Linked DNA regions of Homo sapiens: region 1 is linked to region 2. Evidence: fine-mapped expression QTL. A gene starts in region 2. The other region holds a variant in brackets. All regions are shown on one strand. Distances are from middle to middle.

Evidence for each region. PIP is the estimated chance that this variant, and not a neighbour inherited with it, causes the effect. A credible set is the group of variants that fine-mapping cannot tell apart.
Region 1: its variant is the best candidate, but not a certain one, in a credible set for the expression of PWWP2A in testis (GTEx, PIP 0.82).

Annotation. Positions count from the first base shown.
Region 1 is chr5:160,139,547-160,144,921 of GRCh38, forward strand. No RefSeq gene overlaps it. Among named protein-coding and RNA genes, the nearest start is that of PWWP2A, 23 kb to the left of the region's middle. The variant G/A (reference allele first, on the strand shown) is at 2,879.
Region 2 is chr5:160,116,489-160,121,863 of GRCh38, forward strand. It overlaps PWWP2A (PWWP domain containing 2A), which reads right to left and starts at 2,962. Exons shown (of 2, transcript NM_001130864.2): 1 at 2,317-2,962. The coding sequence starts at 2,900. RefSeq lists silencers at 1,958-2,377, 2,498-2,677, 2,778-2,877, 3,038-3,087 and an enhancer at 2,514-3,013.

The sequences.
Region 1 (5,375 bases), 23 kb after region 2:
GATCATTTGAGGTCAGGACTTGGAGACCAGCCTGACCAACATGGTGAAACCCTATCTCTACTAAAAATAGAAAAATTTAGCCAGTCGTGGTGGCGCATGCCTGTAGTCCCAGCTACTCAGGAGGCTGAGGCAGGAGAATCCCTTGAACCTGGGAGGCAGAGGTTGCAGTGAGCCGAGATTGCGCCACTGCACTCCAGCCTGGGCAACAGAGTGAGACTGTCTCAAAAACAAACAAACGAAGAGATGGGGTCTCAGTATGTTGCTCAGGCTGCTCTCAAATTCTTGGGTTCAAGCAATCCTTCTGCCTCAGTCTCCCAAAGTGTTGGGATTACAGGCATGAGCCATTACACACGACCTCAGTTGATTTCTGACTTGTCCACCTCCTGGCTCACTTTCAGAAGCTCAGCCCTCAGAGAAATCATGCCAGATTTCTTTTTTTTGAAACAGTGTCTCACTCTATTGCCCAGGCTGGAATGCAGCAGCATGATCATAGCTTCCCTAATTCCCCATCTTCCAAATCTGCAACTTCAGGATTTGAATTTGGAGGTGGAGAAGATTAGTACTGAGCATGTTTCCTCTTAGGCATTAGAAGTCAGGCATGGGCTGGGCGCAGTGGCTCACACCTGTAATCCCAGCACTTTGGGAGGCCAAGGCGGGTGGATCACTTGAGGTCAGGAGTTCGAGACCAGCCTGGCCAACATGGAAACCCCATCTCTACTAAAAATACAATAATTAGCAGGGCGTGGTGGCAGATGCCTGTAATCCCAGCTACTCAGAAGGCTGAGGCAGGAGAATCGCTTGAACCTGGGAGGCGGAGGTTGCAGTGAGCCAAGATTGCGCCATTGCACTCTAGCCTGGGCAACAGAGTGACTCTGTAACAAAAAAATAAAAAAAGAAAGAAAAGAGAAGTGACTTGCCCAAGGTAATACAGCCAGTAATGGCTGAGCCAAGGCTGCAAACCTGATTTGTCAGACTCCATAGCTTAGAACTGTGATCTAGTTTCTTCAGGGTCATGTCATAACTAGTAAGTGATGGAGCCAAATTCCAACTGAAACAAAAAGGAGAGACCATGCTCTCCCCCAGGAAATGCTAGAGATTATAAATGACAAAAATAGGCCGGGCGCAGTGACTCACACCTGTAATCCCAGCACTTTGGGAGGCTGAGGTGGGTGGATCACCTGAGATCAGGAGTTCGAGACCAGCCTGGCCAACATGGTGAAACCTCGTCTCTACTAAGAACACGAACAGATGTGGTGGTGGGCACCTGTAATACCAGCTACTCGGGGAGGCTGAGGCAGGAGCATTGCTTGAACCTGGGAGGCAGAGGTTACAGTGAGCCAAGATCATGCCATTGTATTCCAGCCTGGGCAACAACAGTGAAATTCCATCTCAGTAGTTCAAAGGAAACTTCCTGAGAAGAGAATTTAATTTGAAAATATCTCCGTTCTACCTGGCATGTGATATAAGAAACATTTGGCAGTCTGCCGTGGGTCAGGATTTCTTTTTTTTTTTAATTATTTTTTTAAATTATACTTTAAGTTTTAGGGTACATGTGCACAATGTGCAGGTTTGTTACATATGTATACATGTGCCATGTTGGTGTGCTGCACCCATTAACTCGTCATTTAACATTAGGTATATCTCCTAATGCTATCCCTCCCCGCTCCCCCCACCCCACAACAGGCCCCGGTGTGTGATATTCCCCTTCCTGTGTCCATGTGTTCTCATTGTTCAATTCCCACCTATGAGTGAGAACATGCGGTGTTTGGTTTTTTGTCCTTGTGATAGTTTGCTGAGAATGATGGTTTCCAGCTTCATCCATGTCCCTACAAAGGACATGAACTCATCATTTTTTATGGATACATAGTATTCTATGATTTCTATAATAAATCATTCCCATTGCCAATCTTACCAAAAGAATATTCTATTGTTATACAAAAAAGCTAACAAAAATAACTACCATGTTCGGGATGTTTACTACATGGCAAGGACTACATTAATAAGCATTTCTTGTATATTAATATCATTCCATCTTCATGATAGCCCTATGGGTAGATATTATTATTTTCATTCTATACGTTAAGAAATTGAGTCTCAGGCCGAGCACAGTGGCTCACGCCTGTAATCCCAGCACTTTGGGAGGCCGAGGCGGGTGGATCACGAGGTCAAGAGATCGAGACCAGCCTGGACAACATGGTGAAACTCTGTCTCTGCTAAAAATACAGAAAATTAGCTGGGTATAGTGGCAGGCACCTGTCATCCCAGATACTGGGGAGGCTGAGGCAGGAGAGTCATTTGAACCTGGGAGGTGGAGGTTGCAGTGAGCCAAGATCGCACCACTGCACTCCAGCCCCGGTGACAGAGTGAGACTCTGTTTCAAAAAAAAGAAAGAAATTGAGTCTCAAAGAGGTTAAATAACTTGCTCAAGGTCACCCAGATGGAGGGTGGTAGAGCCAGAGTTCAAAATGACAATGCTATTGTTTTCATCCCTGGCTAAGCATGAGAAAAATGAAGATTACCAGGCCCTACTTAAAGCCACCAACTTGAGATTTCCCAGGGATGTGGCCCTGGGATGTATTGAAAAGTCTCCACAGGTGACCTGAAGCCCACCAAAAATTGAAGACCTAGCCCCCGTTAGGCCTTAACCCAAAACTCACCCTTATAACTGCTCACCTGCCTGGACCCAGTACTAATCATATTAGTCGCTGTTAGAGAAGAATGTCTGTTTGGTAAAACCACTGATGGCCTTTGTGAAGGCTTTGGTTTAGTGATTAGCTTTCAAGATGCAAACTTTGTCCTTGGAATAGTGGAAAACAGCACGTAGGCTTAGAAATTCTTTTTTTTTTTTTTTGAGATGGAGTTTCACTCTTGTCACCCA[G/A]GCTGGAGTGCAATGGTGAGATCGCAGCTCACTGCAACTTCTGCCTCTTGGGTTCCCTGGCCTCAGCTTCCCAAGTAGCTGGGATTACAGGCGCCCACTACCACACCTGGCTAATTTTTTTATTTTTAGTAGAGATGGTGGGTTGCAGGGGAGGGGGTCTCACCATGTTAGCCAGGCTGGTCTCTAACTCCTGACCTCAGGTGATCCACCCGCCTCCACCTCCCAAAGTGCTGGGATTACAGGCATGAACCACCACGCCCGGGCTAGGCTCAGAGATTCTGAGAGGAAGGGTCTCAAAAACCCAGATCATCTAATATCTTCAGAGACAAGGAAGATGCCTTTCACTCTGCCTGGAACATTGTGCCCTCTCCTCACCTCATTAGCGACTTTCAGATCACAATTCCCTTACCTAGCCATAGGAAGCAGGTACTCCCACATAGCTTTCTCTAGTTGTTTTTTTGTCTTTTGTTTTTTTTGTTTTGTTTTTTTGAGACAGAGTCTAGCTCTGTCACCCAGGCTGGAGTGCAGTGGCTCGATCTCAGCTCACTGCAAGCTCCACCTCCTGGGTTCACGCCATTCTGCCTCAGCCTCCTGAGTAGCTGCGACTACAGGCGCCCGCCACCACGCCCGGCTAATGTTTTGTATTTTTAGTAGAGACGGGGTTTCAGTGTGTTAGCCAGAATGGTCTTGATCTCCTGACCTCGTGATCCGCCCGCCTTGGCGTCCCAAAGTGCTGGGATTACAGGTGTGAGCCACCGCACCCAGCCAGCTTTCTCTATTTGTGTGTGATTATTTACTTCTTGTTTCCTTCTTAACTAGACAAGAGAACAAGGAGCACATCTTGTTTTGCTCATCTCTAAATGCAAGCCCCATGCGTACGATATAGAAGGCACTCAATCAGTAATACCTAATCTTTGTGTACCTTCTTCTATGCACCAGTGACTGTGCTGAGCAGTTCATATGTATTATCTCACTTAATTGTTACAACAGTCCAATCTTCATTTCACAGATGAAGAACCCAAGGCATAGAAAGACGAAGTGGTCACTTAATTTTTTTTTTTTTCTTCTTTTAAAAAATTTATTCTTCAGGCCGGGCGCCGTGGCTCACGCCTATAATCCCAGCACTTTGGGAGGTCAAGGCGGGCGGATCACCTGAGGTCGGGGGTTCGAGACCAGCCTGACCAGCATGGAGCAACCCCATCTCTACTGAAAATACAAAATTAGCCAGGCGTGGTGGTGCCTGCCTGTAATCCCAGCTACTCGGGAGGCTAAAGCCGGAGAATCACTTGAACCCGGGAGGCAGAGGTTGTAGTGAGCTGAGATCTCACCATTGCACTCCAGCCTGGATGACAAGAGCAAAACTCCATCTCAAAAAAAAAAAAATTATTCTTCAAATGACAACTTTTAAAAAAATTATAGATTCAGAGGGTATATGGGCAGGTTTCTTACATGGGTATATGTTATAAATCTGAGGTTTGAGCTTCTAATGAACCCATTACCAAGAGTGAACATCGTCCCTCGCAGGAAGCTTTTCATCCCTTGCTTTTCTCCCTCCCTCCGCTCTTTTGGAGTCCCCAGTGTCTGTTGTTTCTACCTTTATGTCCCCGTGTACCTTTTGTTTAACTTTTTGTTACCTAATTGGTTTTCTGTTCCTGAGTTAATTTGCTTAGGGTAATGGGCTTCAGTTGCATCCATGCTGCTGCAAAGGATATGATTTCATTTTTTTCTTTTATGGATGTGTAGTAGTCCATGGTGTGTATGTACCATATTTTTAAAATTTAATCTATCATTGACAGTCAGGTTGATTCCATGAGTTTGCTACTGAAAAGAGTGCTGCAATAAATGTACGAGTACAGGTGCCCTTTGGATAAGATGATTTCTTTTCCTTTGGGTAGATAACCAGTAGTGGGATTGGTGGGTGAATGGTAGTTGGTTTTTTTTGAGATGAAATTTTGCTCTAGTTTCCCAGGCTGGAATGCAATGGCACAATCTCAGCTTGCTGCAACTTCTGCCTCCCGGGTTCAAATGATTCTCCTGCCTCAGGCTTCCAAGTAGCTGGGATTACAAGCATGTGCCACCATGCCTGGCTAATTTTTTGTATTTAGTAGAGACAGGGTTTCACCATGTTGGTCAGGCTGGTCTCAAACTCCTGACCGCAGGTGATCCACCCGCCTCGGCTTCTCAAAGTGTTGGGATTACTGGCATGAGCCACTGCGCCCGGCCTGTTTTAGTTCTTTAAGAAATCTCCATACTGTGTCTCATAGAGGTTGTACTAATCTACATTCCCATCAACATTGTAAAACTGCTCCCTTTTCTCTGCATCCTCACCGTCTGCTATTTTTTTACTTTTGTTTTTTGTTTTTTTTTTTTTGAGATGGAATTTCACTCTTGTTGCCCAGGCTGGAGTGCAGTGGCATGATCTCTGCTCACTGCAACCTCCACCTTCCAGGTTCAAGCGATTCTCCTGCCTCAGTCTCCCCAGTAGGTGGGATTACAG
Region 2 (5,375 bases):
TAGGATCCTTTCACTTCAGAATATTCAAATGGAAAAGGTTCATATTAGGAATAGCTCCTCCAACAAAAGAAATTGCTGTTTCTAAGCACTGATAGCATGAGACCAAAACTCAATAGCAATTCTCCACTAAAGAAAATTTTTTAAAAATAAAGCACTAACACAATGAGCACTTATCCATTCCATTTCCAAAAACAACTTACCTTCTGCACCTTCCTTTTGCAGATTTGAAATCCAGATTCTCACACAATCACTGGCCATCTCTTCTGTTTCATTCAACAGCATACACACCAGAGTGTCTCTTACTATTATATACATCAGTAGAGGCCGGGCGAGGTGGCTCATGCCTGTAATCTCAGCACTTTGGGAGGCCAAGGTGGGTGGATCACCTGAGGTCAGGAGTTTGAGACCAACCTGACCAACATGGTGAAACCCCATCTCTACTAAAAATACAAAATTAGCCAGGCGTGGTGGCACATGCCTGTAATCCCAGCTACTTGGGAGGCTGAGGTAGGAGAATCACTTGAACCAGGGAGGTGGAGGGTGCAGTGAGCAGAGATTGTACCACTGCAGCCTGGACAACAAGAGCGAAACTCTGTCTCAAAAATAAATAAATAAATAAATAAATAAAATACATCAATAGAAAGCACACTCACCTTATTCTGCTTTCTAATTATGAAAACAGGAGTGCAGGCCGGGCACAGTGGCTCACGCCTGTAATTTCAGCACTTTGGAAGGCCAAGGCAGTAGGATCGCTTGAGCCCAGGAGTCTGAGACCAGCCTAGGCAGCACAGCAAGACCCTGTCTCTATTAAATAAGTAAACAAACAAACATAAACAGAAGTGCAAATGCCCTAATCCAAAATTATTTTTAAAAAAGATACTTGAGGCCGGGCACGGCGGCTCATGCCTGTAATCCCAGCCCTTTGGGAGGCTGAGGCGGGTGGATAACCTGAGGTCAGGATTTCAAGACCAGCCTGGCCAACATGGTGAAATCCCGGCTCTAGTTAAAAAATACAAAAATTAGACCAGCATGGTGGCGCACGCCTGTAGTCCCAGCTACTTGGGAGGCTGAGGCGGGAGAATCGCTTGAACCCAGGAGGCGGAGGTTGCAGTGAGACGATATGGCGCCACTGCACTCCAGCCTGGGTGACAGAGTGAGACTCCGTCTCAAAAAAAAAAAAAAAGATATTTGAGATTAAATAATACAGAATAACTGCTCTCATCTTTCCCCTCAAACACCATACTTCAATATGAAATTTTAAATGGCTTTTTTCCCCAAATGGGAAAGAAGGATTCCTGGGTCTTGATGGGAGAGCAAGCAAGTTTAAGAGTAAAACATACTAATAAGCCATTGCAAACAGGTGAGATACGATCAGAGCGTGTGCTGTTGCAGGAAACAGAATGGAAAGCCGTGAATGGGAGTCTCTGCACTTCATATCTGCAAAAGAAGAGAATAAAAAGGTTAACTCCAGACTTAGAACAGGTTCTCTTCCCCTGTTGAAAGCAGAGCCCAAAAACATTTTAAATCAAAAAATGAAAATGTGGTTAAGCCAAATTTGTAGATGAACTCAACCTTCTTGTCCTTAATACATAAACTGAATCCCAGGTGTTAGAAGTTACTTGAACATTTTTATGCTACACCACCTTGACATTAAAGGATTTTTTAAAAATCTCCAATCTCTTCTTTAAACTTTTCTTAAACTATCATTAAAATTAGCAAAATATGCTTCTCTGTTGAATGGTTAACCTAACGGGAATGACTTCTAACCGTAAGAATTACAGTTAAAAGGTTCATTTTAACAAATGCTCTTCCCCCTGTAAGGAGTGACAGGTAACCTTTTGGGAACCCCAATGTACACACCCCTTTCTCCAATCCCGCTAAAGTTAAACGTTAGAGGACAGACAAGTGCCTCCTCGCAAGCAATGCCCCCCGCCCCCCCGTCCCCCCGTCCAACACTCCGTTCTCTGCAAAAATCCATCTGCATCTTGCATTAACCCACCCGCCCAGTGACGGTGACTCCAGGCCAAGTCGCAGAAGAAGACCAGGCGTGAGGGGTGAGACCTGTGAGCCCATCTGCACCTGCACCCTCCCACCTGGTGGCACACCTGCCCCGCAGGCGCCCACCTGGGGCCGGGACCGCCCTCTCCCGGTCTCGCGCGCCTGCCCCACTCGGAGCGCGCGCCACGCGCCGCGCAGGACCAGAGGGCGGGGCCCCGGGCAGCGGGGAAGCGAGGGCTCGGGGAGAGGGGGCCGCCCGGGCTCACTCCCTCCCTGGGGACCCAGCGGACCGGAGGGTGCTGGGGGCGGGCGCGGTACCTTTTGGACAGATCCATGAGGACCCCGGAGAAGAGCTTCTCCCCGAAGCGGAACGACACGACAAGCGCGTCCTCAATGATGTGGTCCAGCGTGACCCGCACCTCCGAGCCCGGGATCAGTTGCGACACCGTGGAGTCCCCGCCCGCCGGCGGCACGAGCGCCGGGGCTACGGGCTGAGGCAGCGGCGGCTCCTCGCGCTCCTCGGGAGCCGGGGGCTGCTCCGGCGGCGATGCAGGAGAAGGTGGAAGTTCCGGCCCTCCCTGAGGCGCGGCTGCCGCCGACTCCGCCACCCGAACGGACAGTTTCTCCTCAGCCTCCAGCTCCGGCCCCACCGCCTCTGGGCTGCGGGCGAGCTCCCCCGGCGGCGGCGGTGGCGGCGGGAGCGGCGGCTCGTCGGCCTGAGGAGCGGATTGCTGCCCGTCAGTCTCGCCATCCGGCACAGACGCTTCAGTGGCCGTGACCGGGAGGGGGTCAGTGCCGGCCTCACTGCCGGGGATGGGCTCCATCTCCGGCTCGGCCTCGCCGGCGCCCCCCTCCCCGGGGGACGCTGCAGTCGCTGCCGCCTCTGCAGCCACGGCCGCCATTTTCTTCCTAGCTTCTCCCTCCTCCAACTCCGGCTGCAGCGGCGGCGGCGACAGCGCTGCTTGGTTCCCTGGGCCTTCCCCTCCCTCCCGCGAACACTTTCGTCCCGCCCTTTCCCTGATGCTCGTTTCTGGCACCTCGCCATTGGTTGCATTCTACACCCCTCCCGCACTTTTGATATTCCATTGGCCAGGGATGGACGTCTATCATCTAGTCAGTCCATCCTTCCCACGCAGAGTAGGAACTTCTCATTGGCCAGATGTGTTGTCAAGTGTGGAATCTGAGTGGAGGAATAGGGGGCGGAATCAAAGGGGGCGGGGGAAGTCACAAAAGAGGAGCCATATACTCATCGCCTCTTGCTATTGGCTGGAAGAGGAAATAAAGTTTTATGGTTGGCCTACGCTCCTGCCCATTATCAGCCAGGTCTTTGGAGGTGGGAGAAAGGATGGAATCATGTGGCGTGCCACTTCTTTCAAAGGCGGCCGAGGGGAGGAGTAACAAGGGAATGCGGGAGGGGAACCGCTTCCCAAGAATCTCTGCGCAGAGATCCTTAGAATAAATGTTATTTCTAGGCGCGGACTTCTTGCGGCCGCGTGTGGGCACGACAGGCTTCTTTGGGAAAGACAACTAAAGTTTGAAATACAATCCTACAGACACTTTTTGAGTGCCTACTATGCTAGTCACTGCACTAGGTGCTGGGGAATGGAATGTTCAAGACGTTCTCCATAACCTCATAGCAGCGGGCTCCAGCGGCCATGAGGAGTACGAGGAGTATTTTCCTTGACTTCTAGGAGTATGATGAGTATTTTCCTTGACTTCTCTCCACTTCCTAGGAACAAAGCACCTATTTATTAATATTTCAGAAATAGGAAAATGCTCATGAAAGAAGAGAGACACCATCCTCACTGGATTAAACTGATGACTGTTCCAGGAAGGAGTCTTGAGACATTGCTGGACTGATATGTGAACACTGCTTGTTCTCTCCAAATCCACTTGCAAAGTGGACGCACCTGGTCCCTGCTAAAGCCTTTTTCTTTCCTGGCTTCTCCAATGCCACGAGAACAAAAGATCTCTCACTTCAGTGTCCTGACGCCCCTACTTCTCTTACTTCCACATCAAGTCTTTTCGTTTGTCATCTCTGGAAGAATCTACTGAACCTATTTCTCTCAAATGGCACCACAGAGTCAGCCTTTTTTCTGGGAGAATGCCTGCAGGAGAGAGGGTAGAAAAACTGCTAGCAATGAAAGTAAAAAAAATAAAGTCCTGAAGAATAATTACAGCTAGTGTCTTTTGAGTACCATGTACCAGGCACTAATACAAACACTATAGCATATCATCTCAATCCTTAAAATTTTGAGGCACAAAGAGGGTGCCCAAGGTTACTCGGCTGGTAAATTGCATAGTCAGAATTTCAGTTTTACATGGAAAAGACTGAAAATAGCAATAAACAAATATCACCATATGCTCTGCCTATTTCAAACCAAGTGGCTCGTGGGGAAAGGCCAGTAGAAGATCCCAATCAGGGAAGTTTCAGAATATCATTTAAAAATACAGAAAGAAACAAATGTACTTAGTGTTCATTTTGTACCAGAGATTTTCCCAAAACTCTCACTTAAAATCCTGTGACTTAAATCTTCTCCCTTTTTTACAGATGAGGAAGCCAAGCCTTAGCCATGTTAAACATCCTAAGCGGGCCAAGCGCGGTGGCTCAAGCCTGTAATCCCAGCACTTTGGGAGGCCGAGGCAGGCGGACCACCTGAGGTCAGGAGTTTGAGAACAACCTGACCAACATGGTGAAACCCCATCTCTACTAAAAATACAAAATTAGCTGAGCATGGTGGCGCATGCCTGTAATCCCAGCTACTTGGAAACCTGAGGCAAGAGAATTGCTTGAACTCAGGAGGCGGAGGTTGCAGTGAGCCGAGATGTGCCCACTGCACTCCACTCTGGGCAACAAGAGTGAAACTCCGTATCAAAAAAATAAAAATAAAAAGATAATAAGATCTTAAGGGTCATACAGCTAGCTAGCAGCAGATCCTATCTAACCTGGGTCCTTCCAAGTACATGACTTTCACTCAATCATTCATTCATCAAAGAGTTATCTCCTTCAGGCTAGATACTTGCAGTAAGCAGATACAGATTCTGCCTTATAGGGTTTTCACCATAATATTTTGTCTACAGTTCACCATAATCAACTAATTAAACACAACATAGAGTCTATGAAATGCCTAGACCCTAAGGTCTCACATTGTATAATCTCCCACAGGGAGAAAAATATAGTTCGGGTCCTGGGACCTGATTACCTCTTGTAGTAATTCATTACAAGATGCTGCAATGAGTAATTTACATTTCAGCTTCATAATAGATTGTGGCATACCAAGTCATTGTCCTAAGCCACCATTTCATTCTGTAACTCAAGAGCTTCTACTGGCTCCCAATGCTCACATGGAGTGTACCTTCTTCTGCTTGGCTTTCAA